2 separate regions of the Homo sapiens genome follow, and region 2 is linked to region 1. The links come from fine-mapping of genetic effects on gene expression. A gene starts in region 1. The other region holds a variant in brackets. All regions are shown on one strand. Distances are from middle to middle. Region 1 holds the start of TRIM37 (tripartite motif containing 37). Region 2 overlaps TRIM37 (tripartite motif containing 37).

What was found.
Region 2: its variant is fine-mapped to the expression of TRIM37 in whole blood (INTERVAL, PIP 0.96).

The regions. Positions count from the first base shown.
Region 1 is chr17:59,095,082-59,110,641 of GRCh38, forward strand. TRIM37 (tripartite motif containing 37) reads right to left here and starts at 11,799. Exons shown (of 24, transcript NM_015294.6): 1 at 11,360-11,799; 2 at 9,212-9,313. The coding sequence starts at 11,380. SKA2 (spindle and kinetochore associated complex subunit 2) reads right to left here. Exons shown (of 4, transcript NM_182620.4): 4 at 14,776-15,560. LOC124904039 (a long non-coding RNA gene) reads left to right here and starts at 12,015. Exons shown (of 2, transcript XR_007065864.1): 1 at 12,015-12,510. RefSeq lists enhancers at 10,887-11,546, 11,203-11,252, 11,463-11,592, 11,547-12,206, 11,683-11,782 and 2 more and a silencer at 11,913-12,022.
Region 2 is chr17:59,053,387-59,068,946 of GRCh38, forward strand. It overlaps TRIM37 (tripartite motif containing 37), which reads right to left. Exons shown (of 24, transcript NM_015294.6): 10 at 10,969-11,019; 11 at 9,181-9,262; 12 at 7,646-7,722; 13 at 3,489-3,668. It also overlaps the pseudogene RN7SL716P. Among named protein-coding and RNA genes, the nearest start is that of TRIM37, 46 kb to the right of the region's middle. The variant G/A (reference allele first, on the strand shown) is at 6,382.

The sequences.
Region 1 (15,560 bases):
GGACACGCCTGTAGTCCCAGCTACTCCTCAGGAGGCTGAGGTGGGAGGATCAACTGAGTCCAGAGGTCAGGGCTGCAGTGAGCCATGATCATGCCACTGTCTCTAGCCTGGATGACAGAGCAAGACTCGGTCTCTTAAAAAAAAAAAATCCATAGACCATGAAGTTACTAGGAAGATGGTATAGCTATTATGGCAAAGATACCAAAGATAACGTTTCAAGAAAAACAGATGAAGTAATTTATGCTGAATGCTCCGAGAAGGAAAGATAAGGCCAACAAAAGGTTCATTGGATTTAGCAAAACTGAGTCTACACTTTGCAGGAGCTATGTGAGTAGTGTGGAGGGAGCTAAAGCCAAGTTAGAATGGGTTGAAGGGTAAGTAGATGGCAAGGTTGCAGGGAAATGGAGTGGAAAACACTCTTTTAAATACTTTTAGCTATAAGAGAAAACAGGCAGTAAATAGGAAATTTGTTAACAAAGGACTTTTATTCCCAAACAGCTCAAAATTGCAAGGAAACTAGGAGGCCGATCATAGAGGATCTTAGATGCCTTGTGAAAGCATACAAAATTTCTTACATCCCCTAATGTACTGTTTGAGGCAAACTATATATACATACAAAAACATGCTAAATACTTTCTGGGGTTGTTTTTGTTTTTGAGACAAGTCTCACTCTGTCACTCAGGCAGGAGAGCAGTGGCCCAAACACAGCTCACTGCAGCCTCAACCTCTTCATCTCAAGAGGTCCTCCCACCTGACCCTCTGAAGTAGCTGAGGCTACAGGTGTGCCCACCACATCCAGCTAATTTTTTAATTTTTTTTGCAGAGATGGGATCTTGCCATGTTGCTCAGCCTGGTCTTGAAGTCCTGGGCTCAAACAATCCTCCATCTTTGGGCCTCCCAACGTGCTGGGACTACAGGCATGAGCCACTGTGCCCAGACTAAAATAGTTTCTTACAAACATCTATACCACTAAACTATAACAAAAGTCCACTTCTTATGGTATGTCTACCAAAGAAAGGGAAAAGCTGTCCTTTTGTTCATTTCCAAAAACCTGTAAGAATGAGTAATTATCATAAAGATTGTATATATTAATTATCTAGCATACAGAACTAAATAAGCCAGATGGTAAATAAAATTACTGTTAGTGTAACAGGAGACCAAAAAAAGAGAGTTTAAAAAAAAAACATCAGCCGGGCACAGTGGCTCACGCCTGTAATCTCAATACTTTGGGAGGCCGAGGTGGGTGGATCACCTGGAGTCAGGAGTTCGAGACCAGCCTGGCCAACATGGTGAAACCCCGCCTCTACTAAAAATATAAAAATTAGCCAGGCATGGTGGTGGGTGCCTGTAATCCCAGCTACTCGGGAGGCTGAGGCAGGAGAATCGCTTGAACCCAGGAGGCAGAGGTTGCAATGAGCCAAGATCGTGCCACTGCACTACAGCCTGGGTGACAGTGAGACTCTGTCTCAAAAAAAAAAAAACAAAAAAAAAAAAACCAACTTTGTAACAGAAAACAAGGTCTTTAAGAAACATTAATTACAGCAATTATTAAAAATCTTAGATCATGGGCTCATGATTGATTAAATACTATTTCCAATGCCTAATCCTGCATTTGAAATTAATTAAAAATATAAGTATTTATTAAATTCCTTCCATTTCTTCAGAATATAATCAGAGATATCATTATTGACATGTACTGTGCATCCTCATTCATAATGCTATATGAAAAATTTTAATGTATATGTGGTCTGGGAGTTTAAGATATTTACTAGAGAAATTGTGCTAGGGAAATCCTCAACAAAATCCCAATAAAACTAATTCAACAGACTATTTAAAAAATTATACACTGTGGCCAAGTGGGATTTATTCCTAGAATAGAAAGATGATTCAACTACAAAAATCATTCAATGTAATAAACCACTTCATGGAAAACCCCCACTATGATCATCTCAATTGATGCAGAAAAGGCATCTGACAAAATCCAATATCCTTTCATGATAAAAATACTCAATAGAAATAGAAGGGAACTTCCTCAACTTGATAAAGGCCATATATAAAAACTCATAAAAATCATAGTCAACGATTCAAAGGCTAAAAACTCTTCCCCTTAAGATCAGGAAAAATTCCCCTTAAGATCAGGAAAAAGACAAGGATGCCAGCTTTTACCATTTCTATTTGACATAATACAGGTACTAAAAATTCCAGCCAGAGTACTTAGGCAAGATAAAGAAATAAAAAGTATCCTAATTAAAAAAGAAGTGAAATTATCTTTTTGCAGATGACATGATCTTATCTGTAAAAATCCCTAAAGAGTCCACAAAATATTGTTAAAGCTAATAAACACAACAGTTACAGGAGACAAACACACAAAAAACACTGGCATTTCTATAAGCTTGCAATGAACAATCTAAAAACGAAATTAAGAAAATAACACATTTGCAACAGCATCAAAAGGAATAAAATGCTTAGGGAAAAAAAAAACCAAGAATTTGAAAGACATACATGGAGGCTGAGTGTGGTGGCTCACACCTATAATCCCAGCATTGGGAGGCCAAGACAAGAGGGTCTCTTGAACCCAGGAAGTTGAGGCTGCAGTGAGCCATGATCGCATCACTGCACTCCAGCCTGGGTGACAGTGAGATCCTGTCTCAAAACAATAAAAAACAAAAAGAAAGACTTATACGTGCAAAACTACAATACACTGCTCAAAGAAGTTAAAGAAGTCCTAAATAAATGGAAAGACACCCATGTTCAAGGATCATAAGATTTAATATTGTTAAGACAGCAATATTACTCAAAGGCATGTACAGAATCAATGTAATCCCTACTAAAACTCCAATGGTACTTTTTATATTGGTAGAAAACTGCATTTAAAATTCACATGGAATCTCAAGGGATGCCAAATAGTCAAAACTATCTTGAAAAAGTTGGAGGACTCACACTTCCTAATTTCAAAACTTACTACAAAGCTACAGTAATCAAAACAGTGTGGTACTACCATAAGAACAGAAATAGAGACTAATAGAACAGAATAGAGAGGTAGAAATAAACAAAAATATTTTATGATTCCATTTATATGATGTACTTAGAATAGTCAATGTAAAGACAGAAGGTAGAATAGTGGTTAACAGGGGCTAGGGGGAAGAGAATAATGAGAATTTATTGTTTATCAAGTACAGAGTTTCAGTTTGGGATGATGAAAAAGTACTAAAGGTGGATAGTGGTGATGGCTGCACAACAATGTGAATGTACTTAATGCCGCTAAACAGTACACTTAAAAATACAGTTAAAATTGCAAATTTGGCTGGGCCAAGTGGCTCACATCTGTAATCCTAGCACTTGGGAGGCCAAGGCAGGCAGATCACTTGAGCCCAGGAGTTTGAGGCCAGCTTTGGCAACAAAGTAAAACCCTGTCTCTACAAAAAATAAAAAAATTAGCCAGGCACGATGGCACACACTTGTGGTCCCAGCTACTCAAGAGTGTGAAGCAGGCCAACTGCTTGAGCCCAAGAGATTGAGGCTGCAGTGAGCCATGATTGTGTCACTGTGCTCCAACGTGGGCAACAGAGTGAGACACTGTCTCATTTAAAAAAAAAAAAAAAAAAAGGCTAATTTTACATTAGGTATATTTTACCACAATTAAAAAAAAATTAACAGAATACCATATGACCCAGCAATTTCACTTCTAGATATATATTCAAAAGAAATGAAAGCAGGAACTCAAACAGATAATTGTTAACAACAGAACTATTAACAATATCCAATATCCAAAAAGTGAAAACAACCCAAGTGTCCATCAAGAGATAAAAATGGATAAATAGGCTAGGCGCGGTGGCTCAACGCCTGTAATCCCAGCACTTTGGGAGGCCAAGGAGGGTGGATCACCAGGTCAAGAGATCGACACCATCCTGGCCAACATGGTGAAACCCCATCTCTACTAAAAATACAAAAATTAGCTGGGTGTACTGGCGCACACCTGTAGTCCCAGCTACTCGGGAGGCTGAGGCAGCAGACTCGCTTGAACCTCGGAGGTGGAGGGTGTGGTGAGCCGAGATCGCACGATTGCACTCCAGCCTGGCGACAGAGCGAGGCTCTGTCTCAAAAAACAAAAAAACTTAAGAAAAAGGATAAACAAAAAGTGGTATATAGCCATGTGTCACATAAAGATGTTTCGGTAAATGATGGACCGCATATACTACAGTAGTCTCGTAAGATTAGAATGGAGCTGCCCTACATAGGTGTACCATTTTTTATCTTTTATACTGTATTTTTAATATACCTTTTCTATGTTTACTTATGTTTATTTTCTTTTTTCTTTTTTTTTAATGGGTACAGACTTTCTGTTTGGGGTGATGAAAGATTTTGGAAATAGTGATATGGTTGTATAACATTATGAATGTAATTAAAGACACCGAACTGTACCCTTAAATATGGGTAAAATGGAAAATTTTGTTATATTTATTTTAGCACAAAATGGGGGGCACTGAACAGACCCCTTACCAAAGACAACATATGGATGGTAAATAACTCCTGGAAAAGATGCTAACATCATTACTCAACAGAGAAACGCTAACTAAAACAAGGAGATACCTGTAAGAATGGCTACACGTCCCTGAGAATGGCTAAAATTCACAAAACCGAACACACCAACTGTTAGCATTAATGTGGAGGAATTGGAACTCTCATAAACTTCTGGTGAGAATGTAAAATTATAAAACTATTTCCTTTTTTTTCTTTTTGAGACAGAGTTTCGCTCTTGTTGCCCAGGCTGGAGTGCAATGGTGCGATCTCGGCTCACCACAACCTCCGCCTTCTGGATTCAAGTGATTCTCCTGCCTCAGGCTCCCAAGGAGCTGGGATTACAGACATGTACCACCAGGCCTGGCTAATTTTGTATTTTTGGTAGAGACAGAGTTCTCCATGTTGGTCAAGCTGGTCTCGAACTCCCGAATTCAGGTGATCCATCCACTTCGGCCTCCCAATCCTTTTTTTAATTTAACCTTCATCCCTCTCCTCCTCTCCCTCTTTTGAAGTCCCCAGTGTCTAGCATTTCCCCCTTTATGTCCATGTATGCTCATTGTTTAGCTCCCAGATACAAGTATTTTAGAAAATAGCTTGGCAATTTTCAAAATGTTAAACACACATCTACCACATAATCTCTATCCGTTCCATTACTAATTATTTACCCAAGAGAAAAGAAAGCTTCTTGTACACGAATGTTCGCAGCAATTTTCACTGTAATAGCAAAAACTGTAAACATGCCATATGCCCATCAACAGGTGAATGCATAAACAAATTGTGGTAAATACATACAATGGAATACTACTTAGCAATAAAAAGGAATACTACTGATACATACAGTATTTTTGCTGAGTGAAAAAAAGCCAGATCCGTAAGAGTACATATTGTATGATTTTCATTTGTATAAAATTCCAAAACATGCAAACTTATCTTTTTTCTCTTTTTCCATCCCCCTTATCTCTGAAGCAAACTTATCTATCGTGACAGAAAGCAGATCAATGGTTGCCTGGGGACAAGGCAAGTAGAGGGAGGAATTACCAAGAGGCACAAGGAAACTTTTGGGGATGACAGATATATTCACTAACTTGGATGCAATGATTGTCTCACAAGAATACATATATGTCAAAACTGTACACTTGGCCAGGCTCAGTGACTCACATCTGTAATCCTAGCACTTTGGGAGGCTGAGGTGGGTGGATCACCTGAGGTCAGGAGTTTGAGACCAACCTGACCAACATGGTGAAACCCTGTTTCTACTAAAAATACAAAATTAGTCAAGCGTGGTGATGCATGCCTATAATCCCAGCTACTTGGGAGGCTGAGGCAGGAGAATCACTCGAACCCAGGAGATGGAGGTTGCAGTGAGCGGAGATCGCGTCATTGCACTCCAGGCTGGGCAACAAGAGCAAAACGCCGTCTCAAAAAAAAAAAAAAAAGAACAAAACAAACAAAAAAACTGTACACTTTAAATATGTGTAGTTTACTGCATGTCAGTTATACCTAATAAAAAATGACTGGCTTGAAAACAAGTAGGCAAGCAATCAATATTTGCTGAATGAATGAACAAATGATTAGTGCATTCAGGAACCAAGACAGCCCTAGAAAGAAAGGTCAGAACCAGATCTGGATGGTCTGAACACAAGGCTAACATTCTTGGATTTTATCCTTTACATAATACATTTCTGAGGCTTCTGGGGAAAAGAAAGAGATATCAGTGAAAAATATTAATATAGTAGCAGGACAGAAAATGGACTGGAGATAAGAAAAGACTCAAACCTGAGAGATCAGACAGAAAGTAATTAAATAATCTAAGCATGAGGTAACCAATGTTCATACTTCTCTATTAGCATGGTAATGATAAAAACAGAAGGGTAAGACAAATATAAGTGAAACAGGGAGATAATAACTAATTGCACTTAAAAATCATTGGTATAGGCCAGAGGCAGCGGCTCATGCCTGTAATCCCAGCACTTTGGGAGGCCAAGGAGGGAAGATCAGTTGAGGTCAGGAGTTTGAGACCAGCCTGGGCAACATAGTGAAACCCCATCTCTACAAAAAAAAAAAAAAAAAAAAAAATATATATATATATATATACACACACACACACACACACACACACATATATACATATACATGTTTATATATATACATATATACACACACATATATACATATATATATACAAAAATAGCCGGGCATCATGGAGTGCGCTGATACTCCCAGCAACTTGAGAGGCTGAGGCAGGAAAATCTCTTGAACCTGGGAGGCGGAGGTCGTAGTGACCCAAGATCACGCCACTGCACTTTAGCCTGGGCAACAGAGCAAGAATCCATCTCAAAAAAAAATAAAAAATAAAAAATAAAAAAATCATTGGTATAAAGTTTCCAGTTTGAGTGACTAGCAGAACAGAACAAAAAGAATGAACTTAGAATCGGTTTGAGAAAATAATATGAATAATCTGATCTTGAACAAAGTTCAAGATGCTAGAAGGACAAGACATCCAAAAGTCAGTGCTGAAGGAATAGATTTAGGAGCCATACACACAGAGATGATAGCTAAAGCTGCTAAAGTAAATCAAATTTCCCAAAGTAGGTGAATACTCCCAGAAACCTCAGAGTAGAGAACGACAGCAACAAGATCTTAGGAAATTAAGAAATAAATGCATTTAAGGGGCAGGAGGAAGAAGATGTAACAATGAAAAAATACAGAATCAATGAGGCATAAGGTAACAACCAGAGACCATAAGCACATGGGACCTTCATCAAAAGAAATGCGCCCAGATCCAGATTCTACCACTTAATTAACTATAACGGAGTCCAATTACTTAATTTATCTAGCATCAGTTTCACTGTTTATTAAAACATGGGTAAGTGTTAATGTGTATTAGTTGCTATTTTAACAATAAAATAACACCTTACAAACAAGTAGATATAGTATTTCATAATTTCTGAATTACTCCTTAGGTTATCTCATTTAATGCCATAACCACCCTGTAAAGCAAATCATATCTGAATTCTACAGCTGAAGAAAGAAGGCCAAGAAAGAGTGAATCTCTTAGTTTTAGAAGTATGAGAACTAACATCATATTTAACTGGGTCTTCTGCGCATGGTACAGTGACAAAGAACAGGCTATAGAGTTCTTGAACTTAATGGGTTCAAATCCAGTACCATCAATTGTGAGCTGTGTGACTAGAAAAAAATTATTTAAGTGTTACGGATAATACTCTTGACAAAGGCATATGTATCTTCCTTAGGCAAGAATAAGGAAACAGAAATTTTTTTTTTTTTTGAGACGAAGTCTCGCTCTGTCGCCAGGCTGGAGTGCAGTGGCACCATCTCTGCTCACTGCAACCTCTGCCTCCCGGGTTCAAGTGATTCTCCTGTCTCAGCCTCTCGAGTAGCTGGGACTACAGGAGCATGCCACCATGCCTGGCTAATTTTTGTATTTTTAGCAGAGACAGGGTTTCACCATATTGGTCAGGATGGTCTCGAACTCCTGACCTCAGGTGATCCACACACCTCAGCCTCCCAAAATGCCGGGATTACAGGCGTGAGCTACCTACTGCGCCCAGCTGAAACAGAAAGTTTGAGGTGAAGAGCATGTGACCTCTTTGATTTTCTCAGGAAAATAAATAATTGAAGGGGAATGTGAACAAGGCAGTTTTCAACTATGCTCTGTAGATGTGCTATTGGACTCTCGCATACACAACCAAAATCTTGGACTTCCTCATTTTGTTATTTTGTTTTTTGTTTTTTTGAGACAGAGTCTCGCTCTGTCACCCAGGCTGGAGTGCACTGGCATGATCTCGGCTCACTGCAACCTCCGCCTCCTGGGTTCAAGCGATTCTCCTGCCTCAGCCTCCTGAGTAGCTGGGATTACAGGCACACACCACCATGCCCAGCTAATTTTTGTATTTTTAGTAGAGATGGGGTTTCACCATGTTGGTCAGGCTGTTCTCGAACTCCTGACACCATGATCCACCCGCCTCGGCCTCCCAAAGTGCTGGGATTACAGGCCTGGGCCACCGCGCTCAGGCCAACATTCAAGTTTTTTTTTTTTTTTTGAGACGGAGTCTCACTCTGTCGCCAGGCTGGAGTGCAGTGGCGCTCTCTCGGCTCACTGCAACCTCTGCCCTCCCGGGTTCAAACAATTCTCCTGCCTCAGCCTCCCAAGTAGCTGGGACACAGGTACATGCCACCATGCCCAGCTAATTTTTGTATTTTTAGTAGAGACAGGGTTTCACCATGTTGGCCAGGATGGTCTCGATCTCTTGACCTCGTGATCCACCTACCTCGGCCTCCCAAAGCACCAACACTCAAGTTTTAAAGCCACTAGATTATATTCATCTCTAGAGTGTCTTGTAATTGTAAGATTAAACACTTTTTCTCTATCTTACTCACCAAACACATATAAACCAGTCCTCTTCTGAGCCCCACAGCACTTCTTTAGTGCCTCCTTATGATACCGCACATTCTTCAAAATAAACATTCTAAACTCCATTCCCTCAATTAGATTTAAGCTCCTTCAAGGCAGGCAATTTGTCATTTATCTTAGTATTCCTCAACCCCAAGCACAGTGCAAGCAAGCACTTTAGGGCAAAAAATGTAAAATAAAAAGATAAGGGAAATGGTTAATCCTTACAATATATACTATATATACTAACTGCATGTAAAAAGAAATACAACTTACCCTAATACAGCTGAAACAACACAGTTTGGAGCAATGAGGACACAGGCGTGCATCCCGCAATTTCTCCATACAAATGAAACATCGGAAAACCTCAGCAATGCTCTGAAAACAGTAAAAGATGTAAGGTCCACCAGTTTAGGCTACTGAATCAAGAGTAAAAGGCAAGCTCAAAACAACTTGACATTTACATTTATTTTGGGCTGATCTCTCAATTTTAACTATTCCATATCAGGATTTGGTTGGTCAAGATACAGAGTACCTCAAAACATCTGGAAAATGTACTCCCGTTTGGTTTCACGATGATTCTATTCTAAGGAAAATATAGGAAATGCAAACACAGACATGCAGAAAAATTTTCACTAAAGCAGTAATTATAATGGCAAGAATCTAGGTACAGCCCAAATGTCCAAATATTAAGTAAATTATGGCAGTTACACATAGATTACAGTCACCAGAAATACTTCTTCATCTAATGATATAGAAAAATGCATATAATGTATAACAGCAGGGAAAAAAGGCCCAGGCATGATGGTTCATTACTGTAATCCTAGCACTTTGGGAGGCTGAGGCAGGTGGATCACTCGAGGTCGGGAGTTCGAGACCAACCTGGCCAAAATGGTTAAACCCCGTCTCTACTAAAAATACAAAAATTAGCCAGGCGTGGTGGTGTGCACCTGTAATCCCAGCTACACAGGAGGCTAAGGCAGAAGAATTGCTTGAACCTAGGAGGCGGAGGTTGCAGTGAGCCAAGAGGGTGCCACTGCACTCTAGCCTGGGTGACAGAGTGAGATTCTGTCTCAAAAAAAAAAAAAAAGAAAAAAGGAAAAAAGGCAGACTATATGACTGAATACACAACATGAACTTTTAACTTTTTCTGCAATTTCCCCAAAAGGTATAAACTGATTTTATAATTTAGAGGAAAAAGAAGTTTAAAAAGACACATCCTAAAGGCAGTGTACTGTGACCCAGAAAAAAATGAATTCAGAATCCAGAAATCTGAATTGCTGCCCTGATGTTACAACAGACTAGCTACTTATTTGAACCTGAGATTCTGCCCCAATTGAAAATGTTGACGGTAGTTCAAAGCGATCTTGGGAACAACAACAACAAAAATATGTAAATACAAGAAACAGTATTATGTTTGCAAGCCTCAATTTAATCAATTTAGGAAGTAACTGAAAAGTTTTTAACAAGAAAAAGGATACAATTAAACGTATACTTATTGTATTGTATACTTTGTTTTTATATTACTGACATTTACTTTCACTCCATTCTAGAATTAAACCCTCCTAAAACCAAGATAAGTTTACAAAACCTTTATAATACTTTATATGAGGAATTAAGGAGAAAATTACTCATTAATCTCATCATGACTCTGTAGGGCCAGAAAGAACCTGGGAGATGCAGATTCTGTAACCTGCAACGGGGTGGACAATAAGACTACTGAATGACTAGTTTCAAGTGGAATATCCATAACATAGTTACCCCTTACTAAAAAGCAAGGATTTCCTATTTCAGTATCTGAAAGGTTCAAAATTTGATAATGATTACACAATTATGTTCAATAAACAATCTTTTAAAATATATTCCTAGCCTTTACTTACATATCCTACATATCCCAACTATTTTAACTCACAGCTTACAAGAATCAGTTATAAAAAGAAGAGTTTGTTCTGGAAACTACACATGAGATAATATATGCTGATTCAATCTAGGAAGGAAGGGCAGAAGCCTGCAAAATGTGCCACTGAGAGGGAAAGATGACTATCCATTTGGAAGGAGATTTAGATCAGCTCAAGAACTCGCAAGGACTGGTGGCGAGTGGCAGGGTACATCCATCTGATGAATCTGCAGTTTTGGTCGGAAAAGGATGCTGTTTGCAAACACCCGGTGGGGATGAGTACCTGTGCCAAGACATCCTTGAAAACTCCAGGATACGCACCACCTGACTGCGGAACAGTGAGCACAAGACACCCGGAGCGCTGCAGAATGGGCACGGCATCCTTGGTACCGGGCCAGCCCTCTCCACAGCGGCAGGGGCGGGGTAGGGGTGCCCTACTGGAGGGAGGACATGGGCACGACTCCCCGAATAAAAACCGCTCATCGGGTGGGGGCGGGGACTAACCACCACCCTCACAACCCCCTCACCTCCACGCTCTGTTCATCCATTGCCTCCGGCTCTCGGCGGGGCCGCTGGCGACCCGCAGGCTCCGCAGTCTGACCTCTTAGGCGCCGGCCCGAGGTCGCCAGATCAAATCGCCGATAAAAGCCCGGCGCCCACGTCAGGGGGCTCTGACAACCGCCCCACCTGCGCGCCCCATCTCTTCAGGTCCAGCGCCGCCTACCCCCATTTCGCCATTTTTACCGGCGCGCCCGCCCCGAGGCGCAGAAGTAGGGCGAACGGTGGCCGCAGCTCCTTTCTCCCGGCTCAGCCGCCGGCCAGCAGCCGCGCCGGAACCTCGGCCCACGTGACGCGGGCGCGCGCCTATGGAACTGACGGTGGAGTTCAGCGAAGAAGGTGCCGCAGAGAATTCGCAAACACCAACCGTAACCAGAGCAGCTGGGGGCGCGGCGGCGAGAGAAGCTGCGAAGCGCATGCGCGCAGGACGCTGTGGGAGGGGAAAGGAGGGGAGGAGCGTGGAGCGATCGCCTAGTTCCCGCGTTGCGGGGCGCATACGAGACTTGGCGACTCGCTGCCTCAGGGTTGCGTGCCTCCGGCCCTAGCCTGCGCAGGCGGCCTGAGCTTGGGGCTCTGCTACGCCACCCACGCCCACCTTGGCGGAGGGCGGGGCCCCACGGCTCTCAAACTTGCGCGCCAAAGACGGAGCCACCTGGCGTACTGGTGGAAAGCGCAGACTTCAGAGCCACACCCGTAGTTAAGTATTCGGACTCTGAGATTCCAGGGTGGGGCCCAGGCCATCCGCGTTTTCACCCAGCATCGTGTGATTCGGCAGCAGGTGGTCTGTGGCCCGCACTTTGAGAAACCCTGGTGCAGAAGGTTCATGGTTAGTGGTTCTCTCTGGAAGGAACAGTCTAAGGTTTGTAGGACTTGCGTTCCACCTACCAAAGCTAATCGAGTTAGAAGGCTCCAAACTGAGGTGTCATTTCTCATTACGGTGGTGAGAGGACGGGACCACACACTGTGAAGTCTTCGTTCCCACATCCCACACTTCATTCTTGCCGCCTAAGTTGTCGCCGTGGGACTATTGAAAGGGTATCAGCGATATTCATCTTTCCTATAAATGGGATCTGCTTTCTACAGTTTCCTGCCAGATGTGTAAAGATTGCAAGAATTGAAGGTTTGTGAGACAAAGAGGGCATATCAAATTCGTAATTTGAATTTAATTTTTCCTGTATTTATTGCAAACAACTAATTATACTTAACCGACCTAGAGTGCACATGTAGAGAATCACTAATAATCTAGAAATAAGTTCTTGAATATCAGGCATTTAGGCTTATAGGTGGTGGGTAGCAACAATTTTTTTTAACTACTTGGGTCATGAACAAGATATAATTTAGAAAGATTAATCTGAGACTGAAAAATTCTTTCAGTAAGAATTATTTGTGGTCTTTGACCTACATGGAGCTATTTTTACGAAAATGGCCTCAGTTGTACATTTTTAAATGGTTGATGGTTAATATTATGAGAATTTTACTTAAAAGAATTATTTATAGAATGCAGTGCTAGGCCTGGCGTGGTGGCTCACACCTGTAATCCCAGCACTTTGGGAGGCCGAGGCTGGCGAATCACCTGAGGTCGGGAGTTCGAGACCAGCCTGACCAACATGGAGAAACCCCGTCTCTACTAAAAATACAAAATTAGCCGGGCGTGGTGGCGCATGCCTGTAATCCCAGCTACTGGGGAGGCTGAGGCAGAAGAATCGCTCGAACCCAGGAGGCGGAGGTTGCGGTGAGCCGAGATCGCGCCATTGCACTCCAACCTGGGCAACAAGAGTGAAACTCCGTCTCAAAAAAAAAAAAAAAAAAAATGCAATGCTGTACTTGGGATTCAGAGTAATGAGAAGTGGCCCTTGCTCTCAAGGAGCAGTACAGAAGACAAATAAGACAAATTGCAATACTTACATGATAAATAGTTAAGATTCTTGTATGTTTGCCGAAGAACCTAAGAATGTCGAAGGACTTATTGCACCAATTCATAATAGCGAACAATTAGAAACCTGTACAGCTGATTAGAGGCCGTTGGTTGCAAGCAAAAAGGATAACTTGAGCAAAATAAATAATTTAGTTGGCAAGATGCTAAACTCACATCGTTTGCCAAGCCCTGGGGTTTGAGAGCCAACGGTCTGCTCCATCAGAATCCCTTAAAGGCTGACCTTGCTGCCCTCCCCACAAGAAAAATCTCCTAACTTCATACATATCCTTAAATAACTTGCTGTTATACAACTTACTTGTTATATTATTTGTATAACTTGCTGTTATAGAGCTTAAATGTCTATCACTAAGGAACTGATAAAAATGACTATATATCTAGCTGGGCATGGTGGTGCACACCTGTGGTCCCAGCTACTCTGGAGGCTGAGATGGAAGGATCACTTGAGCCCAGGAATTTGAGGCTGCAGTGATCCAAGATCACACCACTGCACTCCAGCCTGGGCAACACAGCCAGATCCTGTCTAAAATTAAAAAAAAAAAAAAAGTATGGTATAGCCATATAATGGATTACAGCTGTTAAAAAGAAGGGTGGATGTGTGACATAACAAAAATATATTAGAATTGAAGACCGGGCACAGTGGCTCATGTATCCCAGGACTTTGGGAAGCTGAGGCTGGCAGATCTCTTGAGCCCAGGAGTTGGAGACCAGCCTGGGCAACATAATGAAACCAAGTCCTACAAAATATACAAAAATTAGCAGGGGTTGGTGGCATGCATCTGTGGTCCCAGCTACTTGGGAGGCTGAGGCAAGAGGATTGCTTGAGCCCTGGAGGCTGCAGTGAGCCATGATAGCAACACTGCATTCTACCCTGGGTGACAGAGCGAGACCCTCTCTCAAATAAAATAATGAAATGAAAAAAAATCTAAGTACAGCAGCAGTACAAGGCATAGTATCAACCTACTTTTGTTGAAAAAAATTTTTTTTAGTTTGTATACATGTAGAAATGCCTGAAGCAATTATTTGCAGATTACCTCTAGATAATTTATATGCCTGTTTTGTTGTTGTTTTTTTTTTGTTTTTTTGGGTTTTTGTTTTTTTTTTTTTTGAGACAGAGTCTCACTCTGTCGCCAGGCCGGAGTGCAGTGGCGCAATCTCAGCTCACTGCAACCTCCGCCTCCTGGGTTCAAGCGATTCCCCTGCCTCAGCCTCCCGAGTAGCTGGGACTACAGGCACGTGCCACCACACCCAGCTAATTTTTGTAATTTTAGTAGAGACAGGGTTTCACCATGTTGGCCAGGATGGTCTCCATCTTTTGACCTTGTGATCTGCCCGACTCGACCTCCCAAAGTGCTGGGATTACAGGCGTGAGCCACCATGCCCGGCCATGCCTGTGATTTTTAAATTCTTAAACATGTATTATTTATAACTTAAGACATAAAGACACTATAGTCACATAGGAGAAAACAATTATAATCCAAATGAGAAACAAAAGATCTAAATTAAGGAGGTGTGAAGATAATGTAGAGGTTGTATACTATGACCATTTTAGAAAGAGGATTGTAGGTTTTATTGACTAAGAAGATAAAGGGATGCAAATTAGTTATACAGGTTTTAATTCCAGACAACAGAATAGTGGCTATTAACAATAAAATCAGTAAGTATTCTGGACATGTTTAACTTGAATATTCAGGTAGGGGATTTTATTGGAAATACGGATCTAGAGCTAGTGGAAGAAGTTATATTTAGGAGTCATCCACAAAGAGGCTTGAGAAACAAATGAAAATGTATTGAGAAGTGCATAGAGAACAATGTTAAGGGGGCTGTGGGGAAAAAACAACATTTGGAAGATAACTGAAGGAAATCATAGAGGAAAAATAGTACAATCTAATTTTTCTCCCTAACTGAAAGCAAAACCACTTTTAATACTAAGAATTTATTATGATCTCTCCATGATACTACCGTTTTTTCAATCCCAACAATCATCATCACATCCCAGAGCCATCTCATGACAAGAGCTTTCTAAATACTAATTGCCTGAACACTGAAGAAAATTAATATCTGATACTAAGGTGTAACTTATTTCTCTGTAATTAAAAAAAAGGGGGCCAGGCACGGTAGCTCATGCCTGTAATCCCAGCACTTTGGGAGGCCGAGGTGGGTGGATCACCATCAGGAGTTAAAGACCAGCCTGGTCAAGATGGTGAAGCCCCATCTCTACTAAAAATACAAAAAAA
Region 2 (15,560 bases), 42 kb before region 1:
CAAACTTCATAGCAATTTACTTACGGTGCTACTATAGCATTATTTTATAATAAGAGAGTAGTAAATTCTGTTTTTATCTGCCAATTTCATCTTGAGTTCCCTGTGGACAAAAACCATGTCTATATTTTTCTTATTAGCAACTCAGTGTCAGGCATATGGTATAGACTCAATGTTGCTTAAAAAAAATGATGTCATAACAGGAATTTGTTTCTGTACTAATAAGTAACGCTAATAAGGATGAAATCAAGGCTATAAGAAAATGGGTCTTTTATAGGTTGGTAAAATTGATGTTTGAATAATTTTGTAATTCTCTCTATGGCTGAAGCATGAAATAGCAATAAATTATTTCTCTTGGTGAATAGTTAAACCCCAAAAGTCTGAAAAGCTATACGAAGAAAACTAAAATAATCCCTCCCCTCAAAAAACATGATTCCAGGCACCGTGGCATGCACCTGTAATCCTACCTACTTGGGAAGTTGAGACAGGAGGATCACTTGAGCCCGAGAATTCTAGACTAGACTGGGCAATATAGCAAGACACTGACTCTAAACAAAACAAAACAATAACAAAAACATATCTTTTTCCCTACACTGAAAATCATATCCCTTGTTAAACTTCTTTATACTTCCAGAAAAGCTACGGAAAACACATAAGAGTAAATGCTGATATGATAGCAACTCATCTGTCCAGTATGCTCAAGAACAAAGAGCTCCGAATAAGGGAAATTCAGGAGTACATTAAATCACTCTCAAGAAAAAAATGTTTAAAATTGTTGTGATGAGAACTTTTTAAACTGTTAAATACTCTGAAACTTCTCAGTTCAGAACATATTTTAATCTTTTTTAAATATTCAAGTTCTTATTTTGATCATCAAATTATAACATCATGTAATGATACCCAAAAACCTTTTTTTGTTTGTTTTTTGTTTTTTTAAGATGGAGTTTCACTCTTGTCGCCCAGGCTGGAGTGCACTGGTGAAATCTCGGCTCACTGCAACATCTGCCTCCCGGACTCAAGCGATTCAACTGCCTCAGCTTCCCAAGTAGCTGGGATTACAAGTGCCTGCCACCATGCCCAGCTAATTTTTGTATTTTTAGTAGAGACAGGGTTTCACCATGTTGCCCAGGCTGATCTTGAACTCCTGACCTCAGGTGATCCACCCACCTCAGCCTCCCAAAGTGCTGGGATTACAGGCGTGAGCCACGGCACCCAGCCAATGCCCAAAAACTTCTGACCTGTAAAGACTACCCCACGTTAAACAGGGCTGTTGTTTTTATTTACTTTATTATTATTTTTGAGATAGGGTCTTGCTATGTCGCCCAGGCTGGGGTGCAGTGGCATAATCTCGGTTCACTGCAACCTCCACCTGCCGGATTCAAGCGATTCTCCTGCCTTGGCCTCCTGAGTAGCTGGGATTACAGGCGCGTGCCACCACAGCCCGGCTAATTTTTGTATTTTTAGTAGAGATAGGATTTCACCATATTGGCCAGGCTGCTCTCAAACTCCTGAGCCCAAGTGATCTGCCTGCCTCAGCCTCCCAAAGTGCTGGGATTACAGGCGTGAGCCACCACACCTGGCTAAATAGGGCTGTTGTTTGAGTCAGTATTTACGTTCTATCCTTTCTTGTAAATACTACACCAACAATCAACAATAAAAATTGATGGTTTTGGCCAGACGTGGTGGCTCATGCCTATAATCCCAGCACTATGGGAGGCCGAAGTGGGTGGATCACCTGAGGTCGGGAGTTAGAAACCAGCCTGATCAACACGGAGAAACCCCATCTCTACTAAAAGTACAAAATTAGCCAGGCATGGTGGCGCGTGCCTGCAATCCCATCTACTCGGGAGGCTGAGGCAGGAGAATCGCTTGAACCTGGGAGGCAAAGGTTGCAGGGAGCCAAGATCGCGCCATTGCGCTCCAGCCTGGGCAACTAGAAACTCTGTCTCAAAAAAAAAAAAAAAAAAAAAAAAAAATTGATGGTTTTCGCAAATACCACATGTTCTCACTTATTATTTAAGAGCTAAATGGGCCGGGCGCAGTGGCTCAGGCCTGTAATCCCAGCACTTTGGAGGCTGAGGCAGGAGGCTCAAGAGGTCAGGAGATCGAGACCATCCTGGCTAACACGGTGGAACCCCATCTCTACTAAAAATACAAAAACAAAATTAGCCAGATGCAGTGGCAGGCACCTGTAGTCCCAGCTACTTGGGAGGCTGAGGCAGGAGAATGGTGTGAACCCGGGAGGCAGAGCTTGCAGTGAGCCGATATGTCGCCTCTGGGCGACAGAGGGAGACTCCATCTCAAAAAAAAAAAAAAAAAAAAAAAAGCTAAATGATGAGAACTCAAGGATATAACGAGGGGTAACAACAACAGACACTGGGGCCTACTTGAGGGTGGAGGGTGGGAGGAGGGAGAGGATAAGAAAAAATAACTATTGGGTACTAGGCTTAGTATCTGGGTGATGAAATAATCCGTACACCAAATCACCATGATGTGAGTTTACCTGTATAACAAACCTACACATGTACCCCTGAACCTAAAATAAAAGTTTAAGAAAAAAGTAGAAAATTGCTGGTTTTCGTCAACTTTCATCTTGACTCTTCTACTTTTAATTTGCTGTTATTGACAAAGAACTGATAGTTGCTTTATAAAATTAAGTTGTAAAACCAGTCACTCAAATATAATATGCACTGTGAAGTGAAAAAAATCAGCACTTTATCCCTCACTATTCTTAGATTTCCAAATGGTGAGGTCACTAGAAGTTCAACAGACAAATGGAACATTACTATACTTACTGGAAGTTGTAGTTTCCCACCCACCCCCTTTTTTTTTTCTTTTTAAAAAGATGGGGGGTCTCATAATGTTTCCTAAGCTGGTCTCAAACTCCTGGGCCCAAGCCGTCCTCCCATCTTAGCCTCCATAGTAGATGGAAACACCGGCGCACCACTGCACCCAGCTTATCTTTAATGGAATTGCTAACTAGATGTCAAAAAAAGTTTGACTTTTTGACTACAAATTTTTGATTATTATCCACTTAAATAAAACAGTTAAGAAAGTGATAAGGGGCCGGGCACGGTGGCTCACGCCTGTAATCCCAGCACTTTGGGAGGCCGAGGCGGGCGGATCACGAGGTCAGGAGATCGAGACCATCCTGGCTAAAACAGTGAAACCCCGTCTCTACTAAAAATAGTAAAAAATTAGCCAGGCGTGGTGGCGGGCGCCTGTAGTCCCAGCTACTCGGGAGGCTGAGGCAGGAGAATGGCGTGAACCCGGGAGGCGGAGCTTGTAGTGAGCCGAGATCGCGCCAGGGCGACAGAGCGAGACTATGTCTCCAAAAAAAAAAAAAAAAAAAAAAAAAAAAAAAGGTGATAAGGTTATAGTTAGTATGAATTTCAATATTCATCTTTGTTAACCAAATGATCTTTGAAATATAGTTCTGATGATATTATTTCCCCACAATAAAAACCACAACATCAAATTTTTCCTGTTACCTTAAAATCACTGTATCATTTTGTGGATTCAAGTATCCTTCATTTGCGAGTAAGTCCAAACGGAAAAATCTATTATAGCCCCAGCATTCTCCAACTTCAAAGTCAGATGCAAATTCTCGAATGATATTTTTTGTAGGATCATTACAGGACTGGTGAACCATCTCTACACGATATTCATATCTAAAATTGAAAAACAGACCATTACTATACAGTTAGTAAAGTAAGAATAAAAAACAAACTCATCTAAACATTAAGGTCACTAAGTAATTACCTGAGAAGAAACCTTATTGATATACGCAGTTACATTTCTTTTATCATTTATAAAAACAGCAGTATTTTGGGGTTTTTTTATTTATTTAAGATGGAGTTTCACTCTTGTTGCCCAGGCTGGAGTGCAATGGTGCAATTTCAGCTCACTGCATCCTCTGACTCCAGGTTCAAGTGATTCTCCTGCCTCGGCCTACAGAGTAGCTGAGATTACAGGCGTGTACCATGCTTAGCTAATTTTGTATTTTTAGTGGAGACGGGGGTTCATGTTGGCCAGGCTGGTCTTGAACTCCTGACCTCAGGTGATCCACCCACCTTGGCCTCCCAGTGTGCTGGGATTGCAGGCGTGAGCCACCACACCCGGCCAGAAAAAGAGCAGTATTTTTTTGTTTGCTTTTTTGAGATAGAGTCTCACTCTGTAGCCCAGGCTAGAGGGCAGTGGCGGGGTCTCAGCTCACTGCAACCTCTGCCCCCCAGTTCAAGTGATTCTGCTGCCTCAGCCTCCCAAGTAGCTGAGATTACAAGTGCACACCACCATGCCCAGCTAATTTTTTGTATTTTTAGTAGAGACAGGGTTTCATAATGTTGGACAGGCTAGTATCAAACTCTTGACCTCAGATGATCCACCCTCCTTGACCTCCCAAAGGGCTGGGATTACGGGTGTGAGCCACTGCGCCCAGCCAAAACAGCAGTATTTTGAACGAACCACCAAAACATGAATGGCAATAGGTCCTTTTTTCCTCGTAAAGATGTTTACCGATATATCAGGTATAAAACAACACCTCAAAAAATAAATAAATTTTGAATAAACAAGTAATTCAAAGTTGCTTTTGTTTTACTAATGCAATATTTTTTCCATATATTCACTACATATGTTTCCTCATAAATATTGTTATTTCTATTATCCTTTGAGGTTTATCACCTTGCAATTTTAAAATATAAATTTTGAAATACTCTACTGTATTTTGCCAGTACAAGTGATAAGAAAGCAAATTATTGTGTATTCAGAAAATCAAAGGCTATAAAATTTCCTAATAGAAAATAAGTATGCAGCCATAAAAAAGAACGAGATTATGTTTTTTGTGCAACATGGATGGATGGAGCTGGAGGCTATTATCCTCAGCAAACTAACACAGGAACAGAAAACCAAATACCACGTGTTCTCACTTATATTGTGGGAGCTAAATGATGAGAACTTATGAACACAAAGAAGGAAACAACAGACACTGGGGTATGCTTGAGGGCAGAGGGTGGGAAAAAGGAGAGGAGCAGAAAAGATAACTATTGGGTACTGGGCTTAATTCCTGGGTGATGAAATAATCTGTACAATGAACCCCCATGACATGAGTTTACCTATGTAACAAACCTTCATACGTAACACCAAACCTAAAATAAAAGTTAAAAAGAAAAGAAAAAGGAAAAAGAAAATAAGTAAGCTGGACACAGTGGCTAACACCTGTAATCCCAGCACTTTAAGAGACCGAGGTGGGCAGATCGCCTGAGCCCAGGAGTCTGAGACCAGCCTGGGCAACATGGCGAAACCCCGTCTCCATAAAAACAAAAAACAAAAAAATTAGCTGGGTACGGTAGTGCATTCCTGTAGTCCCAGCTACTTGGGAGACTGAGGCAGGAGGATCACCTGGGCCCAGGAGGTTGAGGCTGCAGTGAGCCATAATTGTGCCACTGTGCTCCAGCCTCAGTGACACAGCAAGACCCTGTCTCAAAAAGAAAAGAAGTATACATTGGGAAAGCCAATATATTCTAATTTATATATCCAATCTTGTAAAATTTTCAGGTTTACAAAAAGACAAAGAAGATAGCCTATAAACTTTTGTGCATTAATGCACATTATCAAGAAAATGAAAAGAAAACCTACCAAATGGGAGAAACTATTTGCAAATCATATGTCTGATAAAGGTTTAGTATCCAAAATATATAAAGAATTCTTGACCGGGCACAGTGGCACACACCTGTAATCCCAGCATTTTGGGAGGCTGAGGTGGGCGGATCACCTGAGGATACGAGTTCAAGACCAGCCTGGCCAATATGGTGAAACCCCGTTTCTACTAAAAATACAAAAATTGGCTGGGCGTGGTGGTGCATGCCTGTAATCCCAGCTATTTTGGGAGGCTGAGGCAGGAGAATTGCTTGAACCTGGGAGGCAGAGGTTGCAGTGAGCTGAGATCATGCCACTGTACTCCAAGCTGGGTGATAAAGTGAGACTCAAAATACATTAAGTAAATAAATAAATTGAGACAGGGTCTCACTCTGTCATTCAGGCTGGAGTGCAGTGGTGCGGACACAGCTCATTGCAGCCTCGACTTCCTGGGCTCAAGCAATCCTCCTGCCTCAGCCTCCTGAGTAGCTGAGACGTATGCAGGGTCTCACCATATTGCCCAGGCTGGTCTCAAATTCCTGGTCTCAAGCAATCCTCCTGCCTTGGCCTCCCAAAGTGCTGGGATTACAGGTATGGGCCAGCCAGTCTGGCATATTAACCTTTGACTGAACACAAGACACTGTAAATTTTACTCTGTTGGATGTTAGATACTTCAGCAACCTTATAAATTTTCTTGAGCTTCCTTCTGGGATGCAGTTAAGTTACTTGAAAACAATTTGATCCTTTCAG[G/A]TCTCACTTTTGTTAGGTGGGTCCAGAGCAGTGTTCAGTCTAGGGCTAATTTCTGCTATCGAGACAAAAACTTCCTTAGTGTTATACCCAATCAGTGACCCATGAATTATAAATTTCTCCACCGTGGCAGGTTGCAATAGACACAGTTCCTGGCCCCGTGTGAACACCAGTCACTCACTATTCCCTCTAATCCTGTCAAGGAGTTCTTTCCCCAATCTCAGGTAGTTTCCTCAGACATATGCCCTGATAAGTACTCTGCTGAATACTCAAGGGGAACCCATTACGGATCTCTAGACTTCAGTCTCTGCAGCTTTCTCCTCTCTGGTATTTTGTCCAATGCGCTCTAGCTGTATTGTCCTTTCTAGACTCTCAGCACTATCCCCTCAACTAAGTCTGCCAGATTCTCCCTCAGTCCCAGCTCCTCCCTGTGTTGCAGCCTGAAAACTCTCTCAAGGCTGTAAGCTGGAGAAATTGTAGAGTTAGTTTGTGTTTCTCATCTCTCAGGGACTACTTTCATTTGTTACCACCATGTCCAGTGTCTAGAAAATGTTGTTTCATGAGGTCTTTTTTTTTTTTTGGTTGTTGCAGGAAAATGGGTAGATCTCATCCCTCTTGCTTCATGTTAGCTGAAAGCAGACATTCCATACTAAACTAACAGATTTCATGTAACAGAGTTAAAAAAAAAAATCATTAATATGATTCCAGATCCCACATTGTAAATAACATTTAACAACCTACCACTTGTTCAGTTTGGATGTAATATCAAAGAAGATCCACAATTATCTAAAACCACTTTAAAAAATATTCCTCCTTGTCAAAAAGTACATTTGTGGTTCTCAGGGACTGAGGGAAACGGGGAATGGGAAGTGACTGCTAAGGAGTACAGGGATTCCTTGTGGAGTAAATAGAATGTTATAAAATTAGATGTTGGTGATGGTTGTAGAACTCTGCAGACAGATTTCATACATGTATTTCAATCAAAATGATATTTTAAAAAAATTGAATATAAAAGCAGACATGAGAATCCAGTAGTCTTCTTCTAAGCCAGATAGTAAAGAGATTTCTAAAAACGCAAAGCAATACAAGTTTTCTTAAAAATATTTTGTTTTTAGAAAAATACCATCCTATGATGCCAAGAACATATTATTCTACATCTTAACAGACATACCAATACAGTAATTAACAAAAATAAAAATTAACAAAAATTGCTAGGGGGAAGGTATGTAAATGCACATTAAGGTTGTTATTTAATTACACTTCTTACTTAGAAGTTTCAGGCAAGCCAGCTGAGAGCTCCAGAAACACAGATAAGTAGTAACCTCGCACAACTCCATTTCCATCCTAAAAGAAGAATAATCAGTTTGAGTGTAAAAAAATTAAGCCACAATAAAACAAAATGCAGATAATATCTGATATCTAGATTGAGAAGTACTTCTAAGCCTCAAAGCAATGGAAGAAATAATTAAAAACACCAATAGATTTGAGTTCTTAACAACTTTAAACTTTTGTGCATTAAAAAAAAAGTGAAACTATTAAGGCACAAAAATGAAGGGAAATATCAACAACCACAACAAAGGTTAAGAGTTTTAACATATATAGAACTCTTACAAATCAACCTTAATAAAAAAACAAGACCCTAATGGGAAAAATAATTTCATTAGAAATGAGTGAAGCAAAAAAAAATTTTAAACCAAAAATTAATTTTTAAGACCAACATACAAAAAGGTAATACCCTATGCTGAAAGTAATTAAATATAATTTCTATATGATTTTAATATTAGAATTCCATATAAGATTCTGTCTAGAGATTGAGAAGTTGTTTAAATCTCTACTATAGATTTTATTTTTATAAAGATAATTACTCCCTCCCTTTTTGTTTAATTTGGCAAGACTCTTTTAAAAAAAGAGAATTACTTCCTATGTATTTCCCTAGTACTTCAGGTGTCTATGTTTTAAAAGAATCACATTTATTATAACTACTTGTTTAAACATCTGTTCCCCCAACGAGACAATGAAGGCTGACAACAGAGATCCTTATACATCTCCAGTGTCTACTGGGATATGACTACAGAGAGGTACAAGTACTATTAACCCCTTCATTTTTAGTCTACTTTGCTTGAAAGGACCTGAGGCAACTTTTGAGGTTCGACATGATAATCACTCAGTAGATATCAATGAATAAATGACTCATCAGCTAGGTGAATAAAGCCAGACATAAAAGATGATATATTATTGTGTAATGCCATTATACAAAACTTTTCTAAAAAAAAAAAAATAATCTGAAACTACATATTGAAAGACTTCAATGTGTAACTGAGAATACTAACCCAGGAGGGCTAAAATGTGTAATAGTAAATTACTGGACTCAAAAAGATTATTTAGCATCTAGGCAATATCACCAAACATCTTTAAAGGTAAAGAAAATTAGTTTATTATCAGACTTTTCCTAAAGAAAATGGAATTGCATATTGAAGATACCCAATGAAAGAAAATATGAGCCAAGGATTTTATATCCAGCAATACTAGCCTTAGAATATAAAAGGCAAAAACTGTTTTCAACATATGAGAACTCAGGGAACATTGTTTCCAATAGGCCTTCCAGCAGAATGTATTAGAGAACAAGGTGTGGACAAACAAACAGTTGTCTAATATGGGGGAAGAAGGGGAACAGGGAATGCGGACAGCATATGTAACAAAAAAAAGAAGAGTTAACAGTTCTCAGTAATCAAATTAGTATACTACAGAACTCTGAAAGAAAGACCTTGGTTTCAAAATTTATTAGAAATATGAAAAACTTACTGGGTAAACTTTTAACCTCCAGCAAAGTCCTGAAACTTGAAGAGGTGGACTGTAAACAGGATCTGCTCTCTGACGCAAAGTGCTAACGAAAAAGAAAACCAACCAAATCCCAAGATCAAAACTGTTGTGAAATGGCAACAGGCAAAAAGAAAGACCAACCAGTTTCTTTGTTACATACTTGAAATCCTAGACAAATAACAAGGTGACTGAACAGGTCAAAATTCCACTGTAAAAGTTTAGATATGCTTACATCCTGAAATAAAGAAAATTTAAAGATACTGAAATATTCAGCAATATCTTTTAAGTTTCAGGGGAAAAAAAACCCTCAAAATTGTGACATTTAAGGGAAAAGGAATGTATCACCAAGTCTCCCAAAATTAATTAATGCTTCAACAAGCAGTCTTCACCATTAAAAATAAAACAAAACCCAGAATGTTTCTTCCTCGCTTCTCTGCAGTATAATCATCTTTTAATATTGAAGAACAAGAGTACACTAAACCTTAATACGTGTGGGAAAAACCTCAAAGAGACTATGTTTTAGCCACAAAAGTAACCCTAAGAAAAGACAAATTAAATGGGAAGAGGGATAAATTCTGTGTGGCTTTTTTTTTTTTTGAGATAGAGTTTTTTCAGACAGAGTTTTACTCTTGTTGCCCAGGCTGGAGCGCAGTGGCACGATCTCAGCTCACTGCAACCTCCACCTCCCGGTTTCAGGCAATTCTCCTGCCTCAGCCTCCCAAGTAGCTGGGATTACAGGCGCCCACCACCACGCCCAGCTAATTTTTGTATTTTTAGTAGAGACGGGGTTTACCATGTTGGCCAGGCTGGTCTTGAACTCCTGACCTCGATGATCCACCCGCCTTGGCCTCCCAAAGTGCTGGGATTACAAGCTTAAGCCACCATGCCCTGCCCAGTGTGGCCTTATTTTGATGGCCTTTGCCTATTATTTGGAGTTTCTCTCCTGAAGACCTTATAGTCCTTGTTTCCACTTCCATGCTGCCCTCAAAGACAAATTGCTAAGAACCTTTGCATGTTACGATCTTCACTTCTGATCTTAAGAGAAAAAGTAGTAAAAGCTAACAAAATTAACATACAACTGACAAAGCCTACACATTTCTTACAATAATGGCCCCTTATCCACAATTCTTCACTTTGAGCTGAGATAAATGGATCTCAATGGATTTCTTCCCAGCACTTTTATTTCTGAGGATAGGTAAGAGGGGGCTCATCAACCTCTAACTGTCCAGCCCCCCACCTTAGTCAAAGCTAAGTGATCTCTCTTATTTAAAATGGTTCCTCACTTTGGGCAGGGCACCGTGGCTAATGCCTATAATTCCAGCACTTTGGGAGGCTGAGGTGGGAGAATTACTGGAGCCCAGGAGTTTGAGACCAGCCTAGGAAACACAGTGAGACCCCATCTGTGTGGTGGCACACGCTTGTAGTCCCAGTTACTTGGGAGGCTGAGGTGGGAGGATTGCTGCAGCCCAGGAGGTTGAGGCTGCAGTGAGCAATGATCACGCCACTGCACTCCAGCCTGGGTGACAGAGCAAAACCCAGTCTCAAAATAAAAAGAAAAGGTTCCTTTTCCCAGACTAGAGAAGCAGTCAGTCTAAAGATACAATATAATCCAGCACAAATTATCTCTACATTTCTAATAGGAAACTTATTCTTCTAAGACTTCTAAAGTGAGTGACACAGTTCACTAGATTACTGTCTTACCAAAGAATACCTTTCTGGCTCTTCCTTATATACACATACAAAAAAACCAGAATTGTCAAAAACTCTTACCTGAAATTCTCTAAAACAAAAGTAGCTGAATCGTAAGATGGCACTAATTCACTAAAAAAAAAAAGGCAAAAAAAATTATTTAGCTTACATGTTTAAAATTCCATTTGCCTAAAAAAGCCAAGTCCCTCACTAGTATCTTAAAAACTTTATTAAACTAAAATCTAAGAAATATTTTTAAATCTTTATTGAACATAACATTAAATCAAATGAATTCATAAAACCATCAAGTTTGCAATTAAATTGGAGATACAAATACTTTATAAAAGTTTTTTGGCTGGGTGAGGTGGCTCACCCCTATAATCCCAGCACTCTGGGAGGCCAAGGTGGGTGGATCATCTGAGGTCGGGAGCTCAAGACCAGCATGGCCAACATGGTAAAACCCCATCTCTGTTAAAAATACACAAAAATTACCCAGATGTGGTGGTGTGCACCTGCAATCCCAGCTACTTGGGAGGCTGAGGCACGAGAATCACTTGAACCCTAGAGGTGGAGGTTGCGGTGATTCGAGATTGCACTACCACACATCTCTATTAAAAATACGCAAAAATTACCCAAATGTGGTGGTGTGCGCCTGCAATCCCAGCTACTTGGGAGGCTGAGGCACGAGAATCGCTTGAACCCCAGATGCGGAGGTTGCGGTGAATCAAGATTGCACTACCACACTCCAGCGAGGGCGACAGAGCCAGACTCTGTCTCAGTCAACCAATAAATCAATAAATAAATACTTTATAAAAGCTTTTTTTCCTAAAAGAAAAAAAGGCAACACATTATATAATTATTAAACTAAGTACAAGAAATACACTTTAAAAAGTACTCATGGAAATGGGAAAAAGAAACTGACGCTTAGGGTGTGAATCTGAATTATGAAACAGATATAAAACATCCTTTAAAAAATGAAACAACAGTCAGTGATAACACAATTAATCCCCAAACTTCCTACTCTGGAATGGATTATGGGAAATATTAACAGACCTCAAATACTTTGAAACTATTTACTAGCAAATAAATCTACACATTTTTATAGGATGAATACCTCATCACCTAAGGGGCAACTGTGATGGACTAGCACACTCACACTTTCTTGGCAAGTCAAAACTACTTCAAGCAACTTTAGTCCCATCCAATCTTCTTCAGAGAGAACTGTATTATAATCACAGAATGGACTAAAAGTCACTTTGCTGCTAACTACCTTTAATCATGTGGATGGTTTGTACACTTTCATTAGAACACCTCAAAACTCATTAAAACACTATACTATGAAAAAGACTATCATACGATGTTTTAATAGTGTTATAAATTTGATATATAAAATTACAAATTTCCCAAAACAATAAACTGCAAACCATTTCACCACATCTTCAGATATATTTTCTAAAGTTCAATTCATCATAATTTTGGTTATTATCAAAACAAGATAAAATATACATCTATAGCACTGCCACACTATGATAGTGTCTAAAGAAATTAGTGGCTTGCAATACAATATAGACAAATAATTCTTTATTTCAATGTAAGTACGTATAGCTAAATAGGTCACGTCTTTTACACAGTAAGCAGATGTACTTTGCCCTGTGATTAACTGTATAGCTACTATCCAAATTGACTATGTCAAGAATTCCTATGATATCCCTAGTCAGTTGTTATCCTTCTTAGAAGACTCACATTCCTCATCCCCATATCCTTTTGCCTGGTTAACCCTTACTATTTCTTCAGATAACAGATTAGAAGTCACATACTCTTGGAGGTTTGCTCTAAGGTCTTCCCATTATATGATCTCCTAGCACTCAACATACACAAACTCCAATTAGCAGGACCAATGCAATTAGTGCCTAGGAAGCCTTTCTGGAACCATAAACCTAGTAAGAGCTCTAAGGGAGTCTTCCCAGTATAGCCTTCAAATTTGACATGTTTTTGAAATTTTGTGCAACTTTCAATCAGGTCTCTCATCAAGTACAGAATATCCTCCACAACATGCAAAGACTTTAATCAATCCCCAGTTGCCTGCTAATCTGCATATTATTTCTTCTGCCATGTCCAGTGTAATTTATTTCCTGTGTTGTTGTTACTGTTATTTCTGCTCTAAGTCCAGACTATCATTATCATATTTTATTGGCCATTAAGGGTCAAAAGACTTCAGCAGAACCCAAATTAAACAACAAGAGATGCCATTTTCAACTCAGAATGGTGAAGTAGAAAGCTTCCAGGCTAAAGAGCATAGGTTACTAACACTCATGAACCAAGAGAGTACAGTCCAGTTTACCCTAGTCTCACTTGCTAGGAGAAAATGACCACATTCAGAGCACAGAAAACAGGTACTGTGATATACTTTTACATATGTACATTCTCCTAGGGAAAATTTTTTGGACACAAATAGTATAATGACAAATTAGTGGTATGGGGCAGCATTAAACAGGATACTTACTTCCCCTATCACCAGTTACCACATTAATTTTATTACTGTTCCAATAACCTGTTTTTCTAAATCATAATTATAAACCCAAAGAGCTCTGTATTATGCTTAATGCTAGCACTTAACACATGCCTAAAATATAGCTGGCATATATTCACTGAATGAATGTTTATAAATACTTGCTGGCAGATTCGTAGAGTTGGAAATATTTGCTCAAAAATTTCTTTTGCGAAAGAAATTACTTTGCTTTTTAAATTTAAATTTTATTTATTTATTTATTTATTTATTTTTTTGAGACGCAGTCTCGCTCTGTCACACAGGCTGGAGTGCAGTGGCGCGATCTCGGCTCACTGATTTTGCATTCTTTATATGTATATACAAAGCTATTGCTACTGCTAGGCCATCTAATTCCACCACCACATCTCCATATTATGCTCATTCATTTAGAGATTATCTTCAATCATACTGATGTTATCATTCTGTGTCTGCAGATGAGGCACTGCTTTATCTTTTCATAGTTTTAAAATTTTCTCCTCCTCTCTTAGAAGTGTAGACTGCTCTGGTTATGATGACTGGATTCATCTCATGATGGTGTCAGTGAATCTTTGTCTTCACAGAATATGGGAAACTACCCTCAAACCATCTCTAGCCCAGGAATCTGGAAGTCACTGATCTGCAAATCTTCAGACCAGTAACCTCATCATAACTTCATCAACAAAGGGAAAAAAGGGAGAACCACAAGTATCCATTTGTTTCTTAAGGAAATAAACTGCTGAGCTATATAAAAACTGGTTCTCCTTATCAACTTGACTATTTCTCCCTGAAACATAAAACTCTCTATGAACTGACAGCTATACTATTGTATCTTTTATTTTTTCTTTTCTGCCTCAGCCTCCGGAGTAGCTGGGATTATAGGCATGCACCACCACACCCGGCTAATTTTGTATTTTTAGTAGAGATGGGGTTTCTCCATGTTGGTCAGACTGCTCTGGAACTCCTGACTTCAGGTGATCCGCCCGCCTCGGCCTCCCAAGGTGCTGGGGTTACAGGCATGAGCCACCGCGCCCAGCCCACAGTAAAATATTTAGTTCCTCTTCTCCCATGCAGCACCTACAACAATACTGGGCACATAGTCTTTAATAAATAACACTTCACTGATTTAGTGACCTTTTCTTCTCCATTGTGGCTCCATCACCAATTACTAACTGATAGAACTAAAGGCAATAGAAACACCACTGCTTTGCATATCTAAAGTTTCATGTGTAACTTAATGTCACGAATGCTGATCTTTCTTATTTGGCCCTCTTTTCCTGTATGTTGCAACTAATAAAACAGGTTTCTAATAAGAATTAAATTAAAAGCCAAAGTTTCCAATAAGGTAGTGAGCATTACTGGAGAAAGAGAGAAGGCCCTGAAAGTGATTAATTAACAGACTAGCGAGCATTGTTGCCTGCCTGATGAGCTGCTGAAAGTGGTATAAGAATGGGAATTTACATACATCAATGGTTCCCAAACTTTAGTGCAGTATTATTACTTAGAGTGCTCAAGACGCATTTCTGAATACCACCTCTAAAGATTCTGGGGACATTGGCCTGGGAATTTGCATTTCAGACAAATGCCACACATAGCCCTGACTTAGGTCATCCATGCACCACACTTTGAATTGAAAAATACTAATTTTTATATATGACCCTTAGGTCAAAATCTGTTTCATTCCACAGGGGATGAAATGGTTCAGAAAACAAATCTTCAAAACTGAAATAGCTGACCACAGTATCAATGAAGCAGCCTAGGGATTTTGGTGAACATTCTTCAACCAAATCTACTTAATGACAGCAAATACATAGTCCTTTTAATAATATTCAGTGCTGTCATTCAGAAATGAGATTTAAACAAAAAAGTCAGTGCTTTAAAAAGATATGAATATTTTATGAGGTTGTTAATCAAAAAGAAAGGAAGACTTCTACTGGTCAATGAGAACCACTGGAGTTCTAGCTGTCAGAAAAACTTTGCCCTTCTGTTTATAGGACTGTGGCATCTATAACGAGTAAGAAGGGCTTATAACAGTGATTCTCAGTCAGGGGTGATTTTGTCCCCAAGGACATTTGGCAATGTCTGGAAATATTTTTGTCACAACTGCAAGGTGGTGGGGTGGGGAGTGCTACTGGGATACTGCTAAACA